4 separate regions of the Homo sapiens genome follow, and regions 1, 3 and 4 are each linked to region 2. The links come from fine-mapping of genetic effects on gene expression. A gene starts in region 2. Each other region holds a variant in brackets. All regions are shown on one strand. Distances are from middle to middle. Region 1 overlaps PRR5L (proline rich 5 like). Region 2 holds the start of PRR5L (proline rich 5 like). Region 3 overlaps PRR5L (proline rich 5 like). Region 4 overlaps PRR5L (proline rich 5 like).

Region 1 (5,153 bases), 110 kb after region 2:
GTTTTATGTAACTGAGTCTTGTAATGCAGTCATTATTATAAGTGGCCTTTCCATTTAAGACATGTCTTTGAAAATAGACTCTAGTTTAAATGTTAGCAGATAGACTTTGAAGTAATTATGAGGAAGAACTTGGGACTGAGGATGGTCAAATTCTAAAACACAGTATTGGATCCAAAGACAGGTTTCTCCACCCTTTAAGAATAAATCTGTCAGGCCAGGTGCGGTGGCTCACCCCGTAGTCCCAGAACTTTGAGAGGCCAAGGCAGGTGGATCACCTGAGGTCAGGAGTTTGAGACCAGCCTGGCCAGCATGGCAAAACCCTGACTCTACTAAAAATACAAAAATTAGCCAGGTGTGGTGGTGTGCGCCTGTAATCCCAGCCAGCTATTTTTGGGAGGCTGAGGCAGGAGAATCGCTTGAACCTGGGAGACAGAGGTTGCAGTGAGCCAAGATCGTGCCACACTGCACTCCAGCCTGGGGGACAGAGAGAGAATTTGTCTCAAAAAAAAAAAAAATCCATCAGAAACGTCTCACCTCAATATAGCGGCCAATGTTGTCCCATGTAAAAGTCAGGGCACATGGTCTATTGATATGAAAACCATAAATCAGAATATTTCCCATTGAAACTGCCTTAGGCACAGCTTGCACATTGTAATATCTCTCAAGGCAAGAAAATGACCTTTCAGAATAGACGTATTCTAGCTAAATCCCCAGGCATCCCAATCAACAATTCTGGCTTCCCTAAATTTCCATCTGCCAGAGTTCGGGCTGATTCTGGGAGTCTTCTTGTTTTGAATTCTCAATGGGGTGTTAGTGCGGTTTTTAACACCCCTCTCCAGCCTCACCCCTGATGTGGCTGCATTTTGGCAGCGAGGAAAAGTCTGGGTTAGAGGTTTGGGTTTCATGAGCCCTTCCAAGAACAAGAGCAGCTAAGCTGACACAAGAGCACACTCTCCCTAAACAGTCTTTTCTGCCACCTCTCCCACTGATTTTATGTAACCGAGAAGAATTAGAAAAGTGTGAAAAAAGCAAGACTGATGTTTGCTGGTTCTTTGAAGAACCTGCTTGCCAATGTTCTTATAAGTGCTTTCAGTCTTTGAGTGTTGGGGTGTGTGTGTCGAAGCAGGGGCCATTGATTCATTGATTTATTTATTGAATAAATGTGGAGTGCTCTGCCCAGTACTGGGCTGTATACTGGGGTGGTCATTGAGTAGGTGGTTTGTGTCTTGGAGATCTTACAGCAGAATGAGAGAGGAACTGGGCAGGTAGTTCTCAGGCAACGCTTTTAGAGGGGTGATGGTGGAATCTGGAGTGCTGGGGGCATGTGGAGGATGGGCACACAATTAGACCTAGGAGAAAATGATATCCAAGTTGAAATCAGAAGTGGGAGCAGGCAGAAAGGGCAGTTGAGGATCTAACGTTCTTGCCACCACCACTCACTCCATGCCCTCCTGCCTCCTCAAACTCCCTGGGAGGACTTTTTCTCGGCAGAAATAAATGCTCAGAGATGAAGTTTCCGGAAACCAGAGATCAGTTATCTGCAGCCGGCCTGAGACAGGAAACGCACATTTTCCTTCTCTCTCCAACCACCCTGCTTCTGTTCTTGTTGGGAGGGGGGAGGTGGTGTGAAGAAAACCCCAGAGATTTTCAAGGAAAGAGGAGGTTCCAAGAATTGTGTTTGATCTCTGACAGGTCTGAGTTGAAATATCTTCCTTCTGAGTCAGTTGGTTGCCTGAAACCCAAAGGGAAATCCACCTCCGATTTTTCCATCTCTTTAACAGAGTGTTGACTGTAAGAGAGGGGGACCCACAGTAGGGGGGAAGAGCTGGGAGGGGACGGGAGGAAGGTGAGCCTGGATCCAGCTCACAGGCTGATGCCATAGACCAGTCCCAGGCCTGATGCCACGAGGTAATGATAACTGCAGACACTTGCTTAGCCTTTTAGTATATGCCAGGTTCCAAGTGCTTCATATGTGTCAACTCTTTTAAAACTCCCCACACCCTGTGAGATAGATACTGTATCCCTGTCTTACAAGGAGGAAGTACAGATACAGAGAGGTGGAATAACTCACCCAGAGTCATGTAGCCAGTAAGTGCCTGAGCTGGGATTTGAACCCAAGCCTCCCACATGCTTAAACCCTTAGTAAGTGGGCTGCAAGAGCCACACAGAGCTGGCATTATCCAGATTTGGGCTTGATGTACCTGGACATAGGTTCATGAATAGATCATGAGGTAAGGGGGGCATTGCCCTTCTGAGGAGCCTAGTTTTGGAGGGATTAAGATGAGGGCTCTTCTTGGTCTGGGTGACTCTGCCTGATGATGTGTTACTACCTTGTACCTGCTGTGGCTGAGAAACAGACTTGGCTTTCAGGTTAAGAAGGGTTGTTAGAAATGGCAGATTGGAAACCCATGGGGTTGGCGCATGTGGTTTGGCCTAAAAGTTGTTTAGAAATCTGGACATCTCACCTAGAACTCCAGGTTTCCGGCCTCTCTGGAAAGGTCAGATCTGGGCACTGGACTCACGGTCTGGTGTGGAGCCTGTCAGGGGAGCTGAGGCCTGGCTGCTGGCTTTAGAGGGACTTTCTTGGTCCTTACAGTACACACTCACTTGCCTCCCTTCTTTGCCTGCCTGCCCCTGTGGCATGGGGGGTACCACTGCCTGATTAGGTTGGCCTCCATTTGAGTTGGGATCTACCAATGTATGGCCCCTGGCAAAGCTCTGAGCATCGATCTTATCTGCAAAATGAGGATACACTCCTACCTGTGAGGCTGTTGGAGAATTTGAGATTCTGTGTGCAGACTGC[C/T]GAGCATAGTGTGCCACATAACTAGGAGCTCAATAAATGCTCTTCGTCAGTTTCCTCCATGTTTCTCACTATTCCCACTGCCACCCACTAGGATGCCGACACCCGAAGGGTGTGAGTACTCCATGTCCTGAGTCAAGGACACCACCTCCCATGGGCTCCCATGGAATGGACCAGAGAAGGGGAGGGGGCCTTTCTATCTGTTCCTGCTTAAGAGAAGCTGCCTCCTTGAAACATATCCTATTGCAGAAGTGAGGTGGGTGATTTCAGAGCATTCAGCAGTCAGGCTAGATGGGCACTGACCAGCTACAGCACTGGGCACAGGACTCTGGAGGACCCCTGCTGTTCCTGGATCTTGAGGCGGTCTGGGCGGATCTCACCAAAGGGCCAGGGTGCAGGGCCAGAGAACTTGGGGCAAACCCTACTTGCCAGATGGCGCAGAAATATTAACTACTGATATGGTTATTCCAACTCATCTTGGCTAACCTGCAGCACTTCTTGCAAGCTGCCTCATCGTCTTTAACCTCATGTGGGAAGAGAGTTGGGACAAGCAGCGGGATTTTGCCACCTTGGGTCTTTCTCTGTGTGCAAGGCAGACTGACTCCATCCGAGGTGATTTCCCTCTGTCACTTCCGCGCTTGCCCACTCTGCTGCCATCCTGCTGTCCCTGCGCCTCTCCACCAGCTTGATTCCAGCTTTTAGTAATGCCTCCTTTACCTTTAAGCCCACAGAAGTGGGAAGTTGAGTTGACAAGACGGTGAGGCGTGAGATCGCAGGTCTGTGTAATAACAGGAAATCCTGTCAACTGGGGTGGTGTCTCAGCTGGTCAGCCTGGGAGGGAGAAAGGGTGAGATAATGTAGACCAGTCAGTGCTTCCCCATTTTTTCCCCCTGTTATGGCTCCTTTTGGCTTCTGGCTGAACTTCACGCCCAGTTTCTCATTTTGGTCAGGCCCCGTGTAAGTGTCCCCTTCACATTACCCTCAGCTCCCGGCTTCCCTTTTTCTAGCTCAGTGGCTTGTGGTGGTGGTTGGTAGCAGCAGAATTCTGTTTTCAAATGAAACCAGGCATGGAAGTCCAATATGTGAAACAGATGGCATATGGGGGCTGCTGAGGCTGAGGGGTTGCTTTCATGTCAGTTACACGTCCCGGCAATTCTTTTCTCCAAAGCTCTGCCTCCACCTTCCTACCTTCTTATCCTTTCATCAGCTAGTCTGGCCCTACCTAACATATTACCTGCTTTATGAATTTCTCCTGGGTCCTCAATCCCAGTGTAGGAAATGCTAGTGTGGCTATACTTGTAGGAAGATGCGAGAAGCAGTGGGCTGGAGTTTTCAAGACCCAGGGCTTCAGAGTCCTGGGTGAAATCATAGTAGCTCATGCTTGCCAAGCCTTGCTGTGGGCCAGGCAGCGTTCTAGCAATTTGATGAGGATTAACCCATTTTACTTGTGCAGTAATCCTGTGAAGTAGGTATCCTTATCCTCCCCACATTCTAGGTGAGGAAACTGAAGTATGAAGAATCAGTGAATTTTCCCGGGTCATTGCTAACAACAGCTACTAAGTGGCTGCCAGGATGCAGAGCCAGGCAGCTCTGGGCTCCCTGATCTCAACAAGACACTTGTTATCTCTGGCCTGTGCTTGCTTGGGTCAGTTTCCTTGTATATTAAAATTGAGGATATTATTGCTGCTTACAGTTCTGTTTTAGGCTTAAATGTGGGAACGCCTACATTGTTGACAGTGGTGTCCAGCACCCAGCAAGTGCTCAATAAACTTTAATTGGAGAAAAAAATGCCGGGTTCCATCCTAGGAGCAATTTGTTTATTATTCGTTATGATGATGATGATTGTTTGTTCTAACAAGTAATTGCTTTTCTGTTGACAGGGCAGCAACCCTAGGATAGAGTGGGAAAAGCGGAAGGAAGGCTGCCAGATTCTAGGCCTGAGCCTCAAAGGAGCTTATGGCCTAGGTATTAGGAATCGGGATTTTCATCTTCCCTGCATCTAGGGAACCACAAACCACAGCCTCTTTAATTTGGCTGTCTCTCTCCAGCTTTTCTCTTCTTTCTTGTTCTTTACAAATTAAATTGGTAAAAGTAAGTCAGGCTACAGGGTGAATTGTCCCATTGTGATTTTGGCCTAGGTGTCTAATGCCTTGATATTTTTTACTGTCATCTTTTGGGTAAGATGAACCTCCTGTGCCCTATAAGAGAGTGGCCCAGATCACTCTCTCATAGGGCCCAGGAGAAATCATTGAGCTCTGTTTCATCCTTTTCTTCTAGCATCCAGAACCATGTCTAACACATAACATTATGTTTTCAGTAAATGGCTAAGATTCAAAGAATTAATGAATGGGGT
Region 2 (5,153 bases):
TTTGATTATAGTGATCCTAGTGGGTATGAAGTAGTATCTCATTGTGAGCCGTCTTGTTTTGAAGTTGCATTGGTATATCAAACACATTTTGTAACTGGTTCTGTCTTTTTGATTATAGCAATCTTAGCGGGTATGAAGTGGTATCTCATTGTGAGCAGTCTTGTTTTTAAGGTGCATTTGCATAGCAAACACATTTTGTCACTTACGCTACTTTGGTTCATTTGAGGTAACTGATGAAGGTTATGGAAGCTTAAATAAACTCCTATTCTCCCCTTTGGTTTCACTACTAAGTCCTGGCTGCCTTCTTTGTCAGAGGAATGCCTGCAGGAGGTGGATTAGGCCCAGGGTCCTGCAGTCCTTTAAGGAGAGCCCTTGCCACCCTCCTGTTATTCCCCTAGTTTCCCTTTTCCTCACCTTTGTCTCAGTCCAGAGATGAGGGTGGGTTGCAGGGGGAAAGGGCTGATCAATCTTTTTGACTTTATGCCCCCTTTGTGGCTTTGACGTGGCCTGATCAGCTCACCAGTCGTCTTAGTCCATATGGGCTAATATAACAAAATACCATAAACTGGGTGGCTTTATCAACAACAGAAATGTGTTGCTCATAGTTCTGGAGGCTGGGAAGTCCAAGACCAAGGCATTGGCAGATTCTATGTTTGATGAGGACGGTTTCCTGGTTCACAGATGGTGTCTTCTCACTGTGTCCTCAAATGGTGGCTGTGGGCAAGGGAGCTCTCTTGGGCCTCTTTATAAGGGCACTAATCCCATTCATGAGGGCTCCACACTCATGACCTAATCACCCCCCATAGGTCCCACCTCCAAATACCATCACCTGGGGGTGAAGATTTCAGCATATGAATTTGTGGGGGACGCATACACTCAGACCGTAGCGCAAGTTGGGGACAAAAGCTCTGAGTGTCAGCAGGGTTGCACTGGCTTGGAAATGCTGGAAATCTGGAAATTTCCAGATCAGGCATCACAAACTGCATGATCTAGGGCTCACATTGCATTAACAATGTTGTGTTTGGTCCACAGTGTTTCAAAATTGGAAAACTCGACATAAAAAATCCAGCCTTCTGGCTTTTCTTTAAAAATGTGCAGGCCCAACCATGCTGTTTCCACCTTTCTGCATTGCAGTATTTGGCTGAGGCTGAGCCCTGGCTGCCCTCTGAAGACTGGTGTGAGCTTTCAAATCCCCACAGTTCCCGCCACACACTGTTGCATCACAGTGGGCCCTCTCCACACATTTGTCACCTGTCTCATACTTGAGAATATTTATTAGTGCCCAATTCCTTCAGGGACCTAACAGGGTGAACTTAGGCCATAGTAGGTAACAGGGCTAAATACAGACACTTGGGATCCTGGCTTTCCAGCCATCCCCATACCATCTCCTCATGAGTACAAGCAAGTTTCAGGTGTAATGTGGGCATCTAATTTGTGATTTGTGGTTCTTGATCACTTTTATGGGCCAGCCACTGTTCTAAGAGTTTTGCATATATTAATTCATTTAATCCTCCTAGGAACCCAATCATAATCCCGGTTTACAGATGGGAAAACTAACACCCAGAGAAAACACTTGCTCACAGTCCATGGGTAATAGTTGCAGAGTCAGAATTTGAAGTCAGGAGCGAATGAGGTCATTTTGCAAGGTTGCTCATGACCTAGTGTCTGGTTCATTATGGGGGTTCAGTGGGTGCAAGCTTTATAATATTCATCTAGTCTTGCCAACTGCTGCTAACGTGCTGCATGGCTGAGGTTTAGTCCCAGCCAGATGTCCCATCACAAAAGTTAGGCATTGAAGTGGATGACATTTGTGTTTAGAGAAATGATATGTCTCATTCTTTTCAGCTCTAACTTGGGGTAAGTTTCTGAAAGCAAGTAAGAGAAAAGGAGAGGGACATTTGTGATCTCTCATGTATAGAAGACTAACAAAGAGGCAGGTGGTCACACCTGAAGGCACGTCCCCTGACCCTTATTACATAATGCCATGGGCTAAATGTCCAAAATTCCTCTCCCAGCTCTGATTGGCCTGGCTACTATGATGAGTGAAGTCCACCAGGGAAGACACTGTGGCCTCGTTTCTCATCCTCCTGTCCCCAGGAGTAACACAGAAGCAGCTAGTAACACAACAGCATTGTCCTCACATACACAGGCCTGCTTTGTTTCCCCACCACACAGAGCAGCCGCTGTAACAATGGCCCCGAATGACACTTTACCCTCCTTTCTCCAATGTTGCACTTGTTTTTTTAGTCTGGAATGGGCTAAACAATGATTTCCTGCAGGGGGTATCAGCTTTTTATATTTTCTGCCTGCTTCTCTGTCAGTCTTCAGGCCCCAGGTCAGTGAGTGGCAAGCCAGGCCCAGAGATCTCTGCGCCCGTTGGAACATCCCCTTCTCGGGAGGCTGGAAGGCCATGGTCATTCACCTCTCCCCAGCAAGGTGGGACCTGCCCTGGAAGAAGAAACCAGACCAGGTAACACAAGAGAGACAATGAGAGCTTGGGGCTAGGGGGTGGGGTTGCAGGGGATGGCTGAGTATCCAGCCCAAGGAGGATGGGTTTCTGGCTTCAAGACATCCGATTTTCTTGAAAGCCACCATCTGCTGTTAAATAAATAATGAAAAGCAACAGAGGTCAAGTTCAGCAGCCTCCCAGTTAGAAAAATACCCTCTGTCTGTCTGGCCCTGTTCAGTGCCTCTGATATCTCTGGGTGACCAGGGTCTTCATGGCCCATGTAGATTTACTGAGGTGGCTGTTGCCTTAATAATAGCTGCTAGTACTAAGCTCTTTCTCTATGTATTGCATATGTATACCTATTACTGTATGTCTCTCATTGAATGAATAGTAATGATAGCAAACCCTTATACAACATGCCTCAGATTCTTGCTTCTTTCAAACCCAGGGAGTCGGGTTCTAGAATCTGCGCTTTTCGTCATCATGCCCCTTGTAAAGCATTTTTTTTTACAACATCCTGCTAATAAACCAAGGTCATCACAATATTTCACTTTGAGAGGCAATGATATATGATGATAGCTATGTGTATTGTGAGTCCTTTGCCCTGTGCCAGGCAGCATTCTAACTGTTTTGCAGCTATTTCATCAGATAGATACTTTATGATCTCTATTTTATGGATGAGGAAATTGAAGTACGGATAATTTAAGTCATTCACCCGGGGTCACACAGTTGTTAAATGGCAGAGCCTGGATTTGAATTCAGTTTTCTCTTAAGTAGTATGGGAATCTTAGACCCGCCCAGCCCTGCTGGTCTGGAGTTATTCTGCTTCTCTAGGTCATGGTGTATAGAGGGTGACATTCAGTTTCTGGCTTCATAGAACATCTGCACCCAAGTTGACAGCTTAAGGAATTTTTTCGTTTGTTTATTTTAAATGATTTTTCTATTGGCATCAGCTTTTGTCTTGCTTGAAGAAGATGGAATTGCTCAATGACGACAGTGAAGGAATTTGAAAGGGTAAGAATTGCTCAATGAGTGGTATCTCTTTTTTGGCCAGAGACCAGGCTAAGTTGCCTCATATGTAAGAGAACATACGTCAAATACACAGGACTCATGGTATATTATGGAAGCAAACTTTATTTTTGCCTATCATTGTCCCTAATTTTTTTCAGCAGGTCCTCCCTCTTCCCTTGCCCTGGGATGAAAATTAAGGTAGGTCCACAACTCTTATGGGCCCCCTTCAGGAATCAAAAGTTCTTAAGTCGCTTTTAGTTCCAGCACAGCCTCATTCAGCAATTGGGATGTCCAGTCCCAGGGAATCAGCCAGATCTTTGAATTTGGTTCCCAGTGGAGACTTTTCTCCCTCCTCCAGTGGGGCCTGCAGCTTGGAAAGGGGGTCTGTGGTTGGCTTCTCATTTCCCACGTTAAGCTTCCATCCTTCTCTCCTCTGGCTTACTGATGATTCTGACTCCTGGCAGGGGGAAGGGGAAAAGAGAAGAGGCAGGAAAGGAGCTGGAAGTCCGTACTTGGTTAATGCTGTGGCAAGCTGGCATTTCAGTGGCAGGTTCTGGTGGGTGTGTAAACCTAGTTCTTTCTCTCTAGGCACAATCTTGTGGATACTTCAGAGAGCACCATTATTTCTCATCTTTGGGGATCTCTGAGTTGCTGGTCCCTTGAAGCTGGTTGCCTAATAAGACTCCTTCCTTAGTTCCCTGGCATCTAAGCAGTGCCGTATTAGTTTGCTGGGACTGCCATGACAAAATATCACAGACTGAGGGGCTTAAACCAGCAGTCCCCAATTTTTTTGGTACCAGAGACCAGTTTTGTAGATGACACTTTTTTCCACAGACCAGGGTAGGGATGGTTTCAGGATGATTCAAGTGCATTACATTTATTGAGAACCTTATTTATATTATTATTACATTGTAATATATAATGAAATAATTACACAATTCACCACAGTGTAGAATCAGTGGGAGCCCTAAACTTGTTTTCCTCCAATTAGACAGTCCCATATGGGGGTGATGGGAACCAGTGACAGATCATCAGGCATTAGATTCTCATAAGGAGCATGCAAACTAGACCCCTCACATGCGCAGTTCACAATAGGGTTTGTGCTCCTATGAGAATCTAATGCTGCTGCTGATCTGACAGGAGGTGGAGCTCAGGTGGTAATGTGAATGATTGGGAGCAGCTGTAAATATGGATGAAGCTTCGTGCTCTCTCTGTCCCTGCTGTGTGGCCTGGTTCCTAACAGACCACAGACCAGTACTGGTCCATGGCCCGGGAGTTGGGGGCCCCGGGCTTAAACAACAGAACTTAATTTTCTCCCAGTTCTGGAGGTTAAAAGTCCAAGATCAAGGTGTTGGAAGGTTTGTTTTCTCCTGAGGTCTCTGTCCTTGGCTTGTGGATGGCCACCTTCTCACTGAGTTCTCACATGGTCTTTCCTCTGTGTGTGCATTCCTGGTGTCTCTTGGCATGTGCAAATGTCCTCTTCTTATAAGGACAGCAGTCAGAGAGGATTAAGGCCTACCCTAAGGGGTTCATTTTAACTTAATCACATTTTTAAAGGTCCTGCTTCTAAATGCAGTCACATTCTAAGGTCCTGGGGGTTAGGGCTTCATCATATAAATTTTGGGAGGATAGTTGAGGCCACAACAAGTGCTGTCAGCTTTTCTCTGAAGGTAAATTTCCATTCCTCCTGGTG
Region 3 (5,153 bases), 66 kb after region 2:
GAGTGCAGTGGCTCACCCGTGTAATCCCAGCACTTTGGGAGACCGAGGTGGGTGGATCACCTGAGGTCAGGAGTTTGAAGGCCAACAGGGCAAAACCCCATCTCTACTAAAAATACAAAAATCAGCTGGACATGGTGATGCGCGCCTGTAGTCCCAGCTACTAGGAAGTCTGAGACATAAGAATTGCTTGAGCCTGGGAGGCAGAGGTTGCAGTGAGCCGAGATCATGCCACTGCACTCCAGCCTGGGCGACAGAGTGAGACTCTGTCACACACACACACACACACACACACACACATACACACACACCCACACACACACACACACACAGACACACAAAACAGAAAACTTATGTTCTTTATTAGCTAAATTCATGCCTGAATCTCAGGAGAATCATGAAATATTGCTACCTTGTGTCTAGTAGAATGACAATGACATACTGTTCTTCTCTGGACAAGTCTACCTATTATTAGTGGGATGGTTACCTCCCTAAGTGTTGAGTTCTCAGGAAGGAGGATCAAATGGGATATCTATGTGCTAACCATCAGTTGCTAACAGTATTTAATAAGCATAATTTTCTCTAACCACCAGAGTTATAAAATATAACTCAGCAAATGCTTAGAGTGCCTACTATGTATAAGGTACCAAACAGGAAAATGGGGACGAGAGATGTCAGTTTTGCTGATCAAAGCCTGTCACCCAATAAAAACCCAAAACAGGAAACCATGACAAATATCTGACTATCTGGTGTGCAGCCATTTGGAACACAAAGGGGTATGTGCACATGTAACATCGCACATGTAACACACACACCCACATGCATGCAAGCCATCAGCTCAAGGCGTATGTGTGTGCATGCATAAATGCATGTGTGTGTGTATGTTTAGGGTCAGTGTGGAATAATAGGCTGAATAAGAGGGTAAGGTTTTATGATATACACCCAGGGGGAAAATCTGTGTAAGTCATGCTTTTATCTTGTTAGGTATATGTTATTACTCAAGAACACTTACACCTGGTGATCCAGCAGCTCAAACACACATACATGCACACACTCCTAACTTGATATCACCCTGGTGTACACTAATTGTCTTAAGCCACTCATTTGATTCAAGAAGCAAGTATAACTCTACAGCAGCAGTTCTCGACATGTGGTCAGAGACCCCTGAAGTTGCCTGCAGGAACTGTGAAGTCACGCAGGGCCCCATGCTCAGAGCTCAGTTCAATGTTCTGCTGTGGCTGTCTTGAAATGCTTTATAACTTTTGGACAAGAAACAGCACTTTCACTTTGCACTGGTCCCCACCTATGTAACTCATCTTAGTTGCTTGAGATCCTTTTAGGAGGTCCATGAGCTCAAAACTATTTTAACAAGACTAACAACATTAATATATTATTTGCCTTTTCTACTCTGATTTTCACACAAGTATACAGTGGAGTTTTCCGGAGGTGACATGGCATTGGTATTGCAACAGACTAAGTGCACAGCAGATACGAGAATCCAGATCTCTTAGGCCAGATATTCAAGAGATTTGCAGAAATAAAAAACAAAGCCACTTTTCTTGCTATATATACCTTTTGCTTTTGGAAAATATAGCTATTTTTCATAAAAATACATTACTTATGTTAATTTGTAATGGCTTTTAAAATTATTTTTAAATCGATTAATAAATAACCAAGGATTTTCTCAGTTTTAGTTTCTAATATGTTAAGTATCAACAGATATAACTTATAAAAACAAAAGACTTTAAGGCTCATAATAATTTCTAAGACTTTAAAGGGTTACTGAGTTCAAAAAGTTTGAGTCACTGATCTCTAGGTATTTACTGTTTCTACCAGAGGAAAGAAATCATTGTGGGAATGTGATCAAACGATAGTGTGTTTGCTTATACTTGTTCATTTATGTGGGCAAATCAATGTCTACTGAAAAAAATGAGGTAAAGAGACAACCTTTTTCATTACCCTTGGACTTCTGCAGAATTTTCCTAAGTGTGACCTAACACAAGTCACTTGTTTTTACTTGTTTTTCTCCTTTGTTTTAGAGCAGCAGGTTCTAGGTTATATCTAACTCTTGTGGTTTTCTAAAATGGAATGGCTGTTAAAGAGAGATCGCGAGCCTCTCTTCCCTCGAGGGGCTTGGGAGAGGTGATACAGACGATTCCAGCATGAGGCACAGTTGGATAAAGTGACCTCTGAGGGTCCTTTCAGTTTGGAGGATGCTAGTAGAGAGAGTCTTTTCCCTTACCAAGTTCAAAGTCGGGGGGTGCTGAAGTAATAACAAATGAGTACATAAAAGGCAAAAAAAAAAAAAAAAGACATTCTGTCAGCACGGAAGCAGCAGGCAGTCACCAGAGACTCCTGCCTTCCATTGGCGAACCGGTCACCGGCTCCGTCCTGAAAACAGAACTTGCTCCGAGTGATGTAGGCAAGGGAGAATGCTTCTGATGGGAGGGCAGGGCAGGGTGGGTATGGGAATCGCATGCTCTCATTCTTATGA[C/T]TCTGACTCACTGAAACGGATCCCTCCCTTCCCTTTTTGAGGACCCTATTCCTTCACTTTTAGCACCAAAGTGCTGACGTGCCTTTTCCCCACTTGTCTTTAGAAAATCTATCTTGCAAGTGAATGCTAAGGTGCTGGGCTATTGACAGTTTCACACATCACCCTTGGCGGGGTGGGGGTGGGCGGACGGGGGCGGTGGTTGGTGGGAAACAATGACAAGGAGAACCGGAGACAGTATCTTTACCCCAGGAACAAATCTCCAAAAAAGGACGTTTTAGACACTGGGCAAGCAGAATTGACATATTGGGGAAAGAATGTTTTTCTAGCACTTCTCACACCATGCCTGCTGTTTCTGTTTGAAAGCATAATCAATTATGTCTGTCCTCCCTTCTTCTCTCCACCCATCTTTCCTTTCTCACTTCCACTTTTCCTCCTTCCTTCCATAAAAGGTCTTATGGATTCTCTGTTATAGCCCAGGAATTGCTTAGATATTGGGGATTCAAAGATAAATAATGTGCTGTCATTGATTTTATAATTTGTGAGTGGCGACAGACAGGTAAACTGATCACTGTAACAAGAGGAGGCAAATGCTGCATGGGTGGGGGCTGGGGGGTGGTGTGTGTGCTGAGTGCTTGGGCAGCCTGCCTGGGATGGAGGAGCAGGGCAGCCCTTTGACCTGGCTCCTGCAGGGGAAGTGGGTATTTCTAAGGGGGAGAAAGAGAACAAGGTTCTCCAGGCCCAGAGACGTTAAGTCGTGCACCCAGGTTCACATGGCTATGTCACTGGACCAGGCCTGAGCCTGGTTTGTCTCTGCACCCTCGACCTGTGTGCAATAACTACTGCCTTTCCCAGACCACAGGCATCTCAGTGTGCCTGGGCATAGGATGAGGTGAGAGGGAAAGAGTGGCCGGGAATGAGGCTGTGGTCAAGATTCCACACACCATTCTTTGCATCATACCAGGAGACAGAAAGAGAGGCAAATATTTATGGACCAGGAGAAAAGTAAGCCCAATTCTTTGCTGTTAACTTACATTCATGACACAAGTTATTTAAAATATATTCCTGGAGTGCTTTCGAAGTGTGAGGGCAGACATCACTCCTTGACCTCTGGGAGCTCATATCTTTCTTTCCAGATTAGCTGGGGACAGATTGACTGTACTAAGCAGAATTCACTGTTAATAGCTCAATGCCTTTTCTGCAGATGCTGTGGTTACAGCTCCTCACCGCTTCCTTAGAAGCTCTTTTGCCCCTTCTGATAATAAATGACCTGACTCTTGTCTTTTCTTTTCCCCTTCCTCCTGACCCGCCTTTGAGAGATGAATCAACCCCCGGGCAGGTTTCCTGCAAGGAGTGGAGGAAGGGCCCCAGCTCCTAGACCAGCAGAAAAAGCAGGAGTTGACTGATTTCTGCTAAGCTCACTTGACAAAGGGATCTGGTCCCCTTTACCTACCAGTCTTTCTGTACCTGCCTGACACTGGCAAGGCACTTACTCTTCCAGAAACAGCTGGGCCAGAGGAAAATGGCCCACCCCTCCCACAAGAATGCCAAGAAGCAATCGGCTGTTAATTTCCAGTAGGACGAACAGGAACCCTTTCAACCAGGAAATCTAAATTGAACAGTGATTAAGTCATTCAAGCTCCATGGCCCTGTTTAATTTCCAGGTCTACAGATGGCTCTGCCTTCCTCTTAGAGACCATTTTTAGCCACTGGTCTTGGGAGGGTATTTCACTTTTAAATAAGGCACCTGCATGTTCTTGTCAGGCTGCACTCTGTGGTGGTTAAACCCACAGACTAGTGGGGGCAGAATGTCCAGGTGTGAATTTCAGCTCTGCCATTTGCTGTGTGACTTTGGGCAAGTTACTTACCTCTCTGTGCTTCAGTTTCCTCATCTGTGAAATGGAAATAATAATAATTGCACTGGGCTCATAGTGTTGTTTCATGTTTTAGGAGAATTAATGAGTTGACACTTGTGATGTGCTGAGAGCTATGCATAGTAAACATTTTTGGGGGTTAAATTAATACACATATTTAACTATCCAACTGTGAATGGGACTTGCCTTTGTCCTTTCCTTCTCTCGTGAGGTCTGTCATTAGATAGAGGGAATGAATTTAGTAAAGAGGTTAAATGCAGAGATTTGGGGATCAAATTGCCTCAGTTCAAGTCCTGACTCCACCACTTAATTAGAGGTTAAGTCACCTCACCCCTCTGCTCTTCGGTGTCTTCATCTGTAAGGTAGGTTATAATTGCACCTATTTCTTAGGATGGTCATGGAGAATGAGCTTTGTAAAGTTCTTAGAATAGTGCCTGGTGCTTAGCTTAGTAAGTGCTCAGTAAATTTTACCTATTGCATTATTACAAACTCAAAAAAAGTGCCATATAAACACAGCAGTTTTGATTATACAAGCTACAAGCTGCCCAAAGCTAACATCCTTAGCAAGTGTAGCCAGGACCTCAAGCCAGCTCCTAGAGGCTGGCTGTGTGTTAGTCAGCAGGAAGCTTGGCAGTCTGTCCAGGTGTGGAAGAGCTCAGCTCTCCCGTGTTTGAGTCCTGACTTTCCTGCTTGTTAAAGGTGTGACGTCGGGCAATTTGACATCTCTAAACCTCAATTTGTTTCCTTTCTCCCTCCCTCCGTTCCTTTCTCTCTTCCTTCCTCTAGTGAAC
Region 4 (5,153 bases), 92 kb after region 2:
GACTAGTCTGGGCAACACAGCAAGACCTGTCTCTACAAAAAATTAGCTGAGTGTGGTGGTACACACCTGTAGTCCTAGCTACTCAGGAGGCTGAGGTGGGAGGATTGCTTGAGCCAGGAGGTCAAGGCTGCAGTGGGCTGTGATTGTGCCACCATACTCCAGCCTGGGTGACAGAGCGAGACCTTGTCTTAGAAAAAAAAAGTAAAACTAATTAAAAATACGTTAAAAATAAATAAAATAAAAATATTTATTGGGTACCTTTTATGTGCTCAGTACTATGCTAGGCACCAGGATACAATAGTGAACAAGACGGGCAAGATTTTTGCCTTTAAGGAGCTTCCATTCTGTCAGGGCTCATCAGACACTGAACAAGTAAACAAACACAACAACTGCAGCCTGGTCTGTGGGTGCCACTAGGAAACAGAGACTCCTTGCTTGAGGGGCAGAGTCCTCTTGCTCTAAGGTAAGAAGCTATGGGTGATGTTTATGCAGGGAAGAAATGGGTGGCGTTTAATCTCTCGGCTCTGTGTGTGGCACACACTTGCATTGTTTAAGACAGGGGTCAGGAGTTCAGGCTCTGGAATCACACAGGATTTGCCTCTTGGTTCCTCTTCCTAGTCTTCTGCCTTTGGGCAAGTGAATCCCTATGCTTCGGTTTCTTCATCTGCAAAATGAGCCTAATGAAACCTACCTCCTTGGTTTAGAGTAGAAATTAACTGAGGGAATAGATGCAAATGGAGGCTTGACACAGTCCTGACCATCATGGCCAGCCTCTGATGATAGTTAATATTATTCTAATCAGCAGTCATAATGGTAATAAAATAGTCATGGTTGACAATTGATTTGACCAAATGGCCCCACCACTTTTGAAAATCTGCTTGTGACCTGGTTTCCATCCAATGGGCTGGCGCAGGGGCAGGCGTGGGGTCCAGATCTAGTCTCCTATGCTGGCTTGGAGGGTTCTGCCTTCTGTGTGTTTCCTTTAGCAGTACCTTGGGTGCTGCTGGCTTACCCTGTATCTGGGTGTGTATATAATACATAGGGGAGTATGTCATACATAAGACTTCATAGAGAAATCGGTGATGGGCTGCATGTTCTCATTCATAGGTGGGAATTGAACAATGAGAACACTTGGACACAGGGTGGGGAACACCACACACCGGGGCCTGTCGTGGAGTGTGGGGAGGAGGAAGGATAGCATTAGGAGATGTACCTAATGTAAACGATGAGTTAATGGGTGTAGCACACCAACATGGCACATGTATACATATGTAACAAACCTGCACGTTGTGCACATGTACCCTAGAACTTAAAGTATAAAAAAAAAGAAATCGGTGATGGGCTGACAGTGAGATAAGACAGCTGCCAAGTTAAGAGGCTGGTGAATTAGATGATGTGGTAGGTGGGAGTTCAAACATGGCTGAGGGATGGTTCTGAGTTTGTATTGTGTTAGGGTATCAGCCCCTGCCTCCTCTCTCAAAGGTTCTCAGTGTGTATGGCTCCCAGGGTAGGGGCTGAATGCACAGCCAGAGATGGTGAAAGATCATCGTGGCCATCAGCTGGGCCAAACCATTAATTGAATGGTGAGTCAGCAGACCCAGAGAAGTGAAGTGACTTGCCCAAGGCCACAGGGACTGATTAGTGCAGGCTTACCTTATACCTGGCTTAGGCTCCACATAAAAGGTCTGAGAAGGCTGGAGGCTGTAGCTGTGATGGGGTAGAATAAAGGTCACAAACCTACATGTTTGGCCTTCAAAGTGCTGGTTGGCCTGGTGAATTAGTTGCCAACACTTACAAATCCAGTGATTTCACATTTCTAAAAATTTGGATTTTTGGACTTTCTTGGGAAAAATCAGATCTGGCAAAACCAGGCTTATATCCTAAGATGGCAAACACCAGATCGGATTGAGTAATGGCTGCCTCCTTTAGCCAGGGCAGGTGCTGGTAGTAAAGCAAGCTTACTGTCCACACCTGCCTCACTCCCTAAACTGGTCCCAGCCTGGCCCTTTCGGCCCATTTATGATGCATAGCGCAGAAAAAAGAAAAGAAATTGGTTCTTCCTTTCATCTACTTTTCCTGCCAGTGTTTATTTGCTAGCCCATATGTTCCTGCACAGGGTCACTCCTATTGTGAAATAAATGCTGAATAAATAAAATTGGTGTCAAATGAATGAACTGTCATTGCTAGAGCCCAACTTGGGATCAGAAGCTGAATCCTGACTTCCTCCTAACAGCTGGGTGACTTTGAAGAAATCATATGACCTTTATTTGTTGTCTTCCTTTTGGGGAAAGGAGGTTAGGGGA[G/C]TCACTATTGCCTTTACATTTATTTATTTGAAGAAGTAAGGCATTTTCATGTTTCTGAATTCAAAAAGTCCAAAAGGGCTTATAGAGAAAAGACTTCCCTACTGTGTCGCTGCTACCCAGCTCCTTGCCCTAGGGGAAACCAGTGTTATCTGTTGCTGGTTTGCCCTTCCAGAGACATTTTACGCACATGCAGTGAAAAGGGTAAATGCTCTTTTTAATCCTTTTTACATAGATGGTAGCATAATGTACACGTGGCTCTGTGTTTAGCCTTTCTTTCATTCAAGGTCGGCTCTTTCTTTCTTTTTTTTTTTTTTTTTTGAGACGGAGTCTCGCTCTGTCGCCCAGGCTGGAATGCAGTGGCGCGATCTCGGCTCACTGCAAGCTCCGCCTCCCGGATTCACGCCATTCTCCTGCCTCAGCCTCCGGAGTAGCTGGGACTACAGGCGCCCGCCACCAAGCCCGGCTGATTTTTTTGTATTTTTAGTAGAGACGGGGTTTCACCGTGTTAGCTAGGATGGTCTGGATCTCCTGACCTCGTGATCTGCCTGCCTCGGCCTCCCAAAGTGCTGGGATTACAGGCGTAAGCCACCACGATCGGCTCAAGGTCGGCTCTTTCTTAGAGCTGCATCACCTTCCAGTATATGGGACACCATAGTTTACATATGGCCAGTTCCCTGTTGGTGAGCACTTATTTCCAGCTCATTGTTGTTATAAAGAAGGCTGCAGTAAAAACCCATGTTACATAAGCCACTTGACGTGCCTTGAATAAAATTCTTGGAAATACATTTGTTGGTCAGAGGGTATGGCCTTTGTCACTTCGGTAGATCTTGTCACATTTCCTTCCACAGCAGTCAATTCAGACTGCTCTCCCTCCAGCCATGCGTTCAAGTGCCTGTCTCCCTCAACCCCACCACCCATCACCTTGCAAAGCCTAAGAGGGTTTTGTGAAGAACACAATGTTGTATAAAAATATTAATACTAACTATAGCTTTTTGCGCCCCTACTCAGGGCGAGGCCGTGATCTAGGTTATCTCATTTTCATCTTAACAACGTGCACATAAGCATTACAACCATTTGACAGACAAGGACACTGAAATTCAGAGCCTATGAGGAACATACGCAGGTCATCCAGCTAATAAGCTGTAGAGGCTGGATTTGAAGCCAAGTTAGTCAGATTTCAGTACCATGGTGTTTACCCATGGTGAAGCCCCATGTATTTTTTTTTTTTTTTTTGGTAGAGTTTTGCTCTTGTCACCCAGGCTGGAGTGCAATGGCACGACCTCGGCTCACTGCAACCTCCGCCTTCTGGGTTCAAGCAATTCTCCTGCCTCAGCCCCCTGAGTAGCTGGGATTACAGGCGCCCGCCACCATACCTGGCTAGTTTTGTATTTTTGGTAGAGACGGGGGTTTCGCCATGTTGGCCAGGCTGGTCTCGAACTCCTGAGCTCAGGTGATCCACCCGCCTTGGCCTCCCAAAATGCCCATGTAATTTTAAATGTTGATGTTCTGAGCCGACACCTGCTTATGGTTCCTGTCTCTCAGCAATGATGCCTCACACACAGCTGGCTCATTTACTCATTCAGAGAATATCTGTGGAATTCCTGCTTCACTAGGCCCTGTGCTAAGCCCTGGGGATGTACCTGAGAACATGACAGACAGTGCCTGCCCTTATGGGCCTCACAAACCTATAACAAATAATTCTGTAGTCATTTATTAAGGCAGATTATGACAAGACGACAAAGGAGGTGGGGAGGGTGCTCTCTGGGGTGGTGGAACCTAATCAGGGGTGAGGAGAAAGGAGGGTGTCTCTGAGCAAGTGAAGGTGGGCTATAAAGGGGGTGCAGGTTTGAACCTGGAGAGTTGGGTGGGAAATATTTCACATAGAGGCCACAGCACATGGAAGGGTCCTGAGGTGGGGCAGAGCAGGTGCTGGTGGAAGACATGAAGGCAGGCCAATGAGCAGACTTCAGAGTGGTGAGAAGTGAGCCTGTGAGGATGGAGTTTGTGAATTTATTCTAAGACTTGTGGGGAACAGTTGAAGGCATCGCAGCAAAGAGTGACATAAGCGTTGTGGGCTATGGACTGTTGGGTTCTAGTTCCAGCATCGTTTCTCATGAGATGTGTTACCTGAGACAAGTTAAACACTCTGTACCTCCATTTGCCTTTCTGTAAGCTGGGGCTGGTAATAGCACCTGCCTTCTGGTGGTTGTAAGATCAGACACAGGTGCTTCCAAACAGGTGCTTTCATGTAGTTTTGAGTGCCATATGAGGTATGAAATAAATGAGGCATTTTAACCCAGTAATCATGAATAAATTTATTTTCTCCAAATGTGATGCACTCCGATATTTTCTATTCCATTTCACTAAAAGTCAAGACCCTCTAAGTTCATTTTTAAAATGCTGAGATAATACATGTCAAGTGCCCGCCTCACAGTTGGCAGTCAGTAAATGGTGCTATCATGATCATCAAGGTTGTCATTAGAAAGACCATTCTGACTGCAATTAGAGAATGGATCAGTTGAGTTTGACCGATCATTATCTAAATCCTGGTGGTGTGGAAGGACATTGGGTCATTCCTGTGTTCATGGTCCAGGGAAGGATTTGCACGCTGGGCTTTCTGACTGCAGAAGCTTCCGAGGGTTGTGTGTAAAAGAGGCCATCTCTCTTGTTTCCGTGGTAACTAGTTTCTCCTTGTTTTCCAGGCAGGCACATCAGATGGCATGGCTGTTTTCTTTGACTTCTTTGTTACTTACACTCAGAATGGCTTTTTCCTGGAAGCCTCAGAGTTATTATAAGCCACCCACTTCTTTATTTTAAGTTGTTGGGCCATGATTCTACTTCCCTTTTCAG

Evidence for each region. PIP is the estimated chance that this variant, and not a neighbour inherited with it, causes the effect.
Region 1: its variant is fine-mapped to the expression of PRR5L in whole blood (INTERVAL, PIP 0.90).
Region 3: its variant is the best candidate, but not a certain one, in a credible set for the expression of PRR5L in monocytes (Quach 2016, PIP 0.55).
Region 4: its variant is the best candidate, but not a certain one, in a credible set for the expression of PRR5L in whole blood (INTERVAL, PIP 0.51).

Annotation. Positions count from the first base shown.
Region 1 is chr11:36,407,781-36,412,933 of GRCh38, forward strand. The region is part of intron 3 of PRR5L (proline rich 5 like); the gene reads left to right. Among named protein-coding and RNA genes, the nearest start is that of TRAF6, 100 kb to the right of the region's middle. RefSeq lists an enhancer at 3,459-3,753. The variant C/T (reference allele first, on the strand shown) is at 2,804.
Region 2 is chr11:36,293,969-36,299,121 of GRCh38, forward strand. It overlaps PRR5L (proline rich 5 like), which reads left to right and starts at 2,320. Exons shown (of 9, transcript NM_001160167.2): 1 at 2,320-2,470.
Region 3 is chr11:36,359,767-36,364,919 of GRCh38, forward strand. All of the region lies in intron 1 of PRR5L (proline rich 5 like), which reads left to right. Among named protein-coding and RNA genes, the nearest start is that of PRR5L, 66 kb to the left of the region's middle. The variant C/T (reference allele first, on the strand shown) is at 2,492.
Region 4 is chr11:36,386,096-36,391,248 of GRCh38, forward strand. All of the region lies in intron 1 of PRR5L (proline rich 5 like), which reads left to right. Among named protein-coding and RNA genes, the nearest start is that of PRR5L, 92 kb to the left of the region's middle. The variant G/C (reference allele first, on the strand shown) is at 2,304.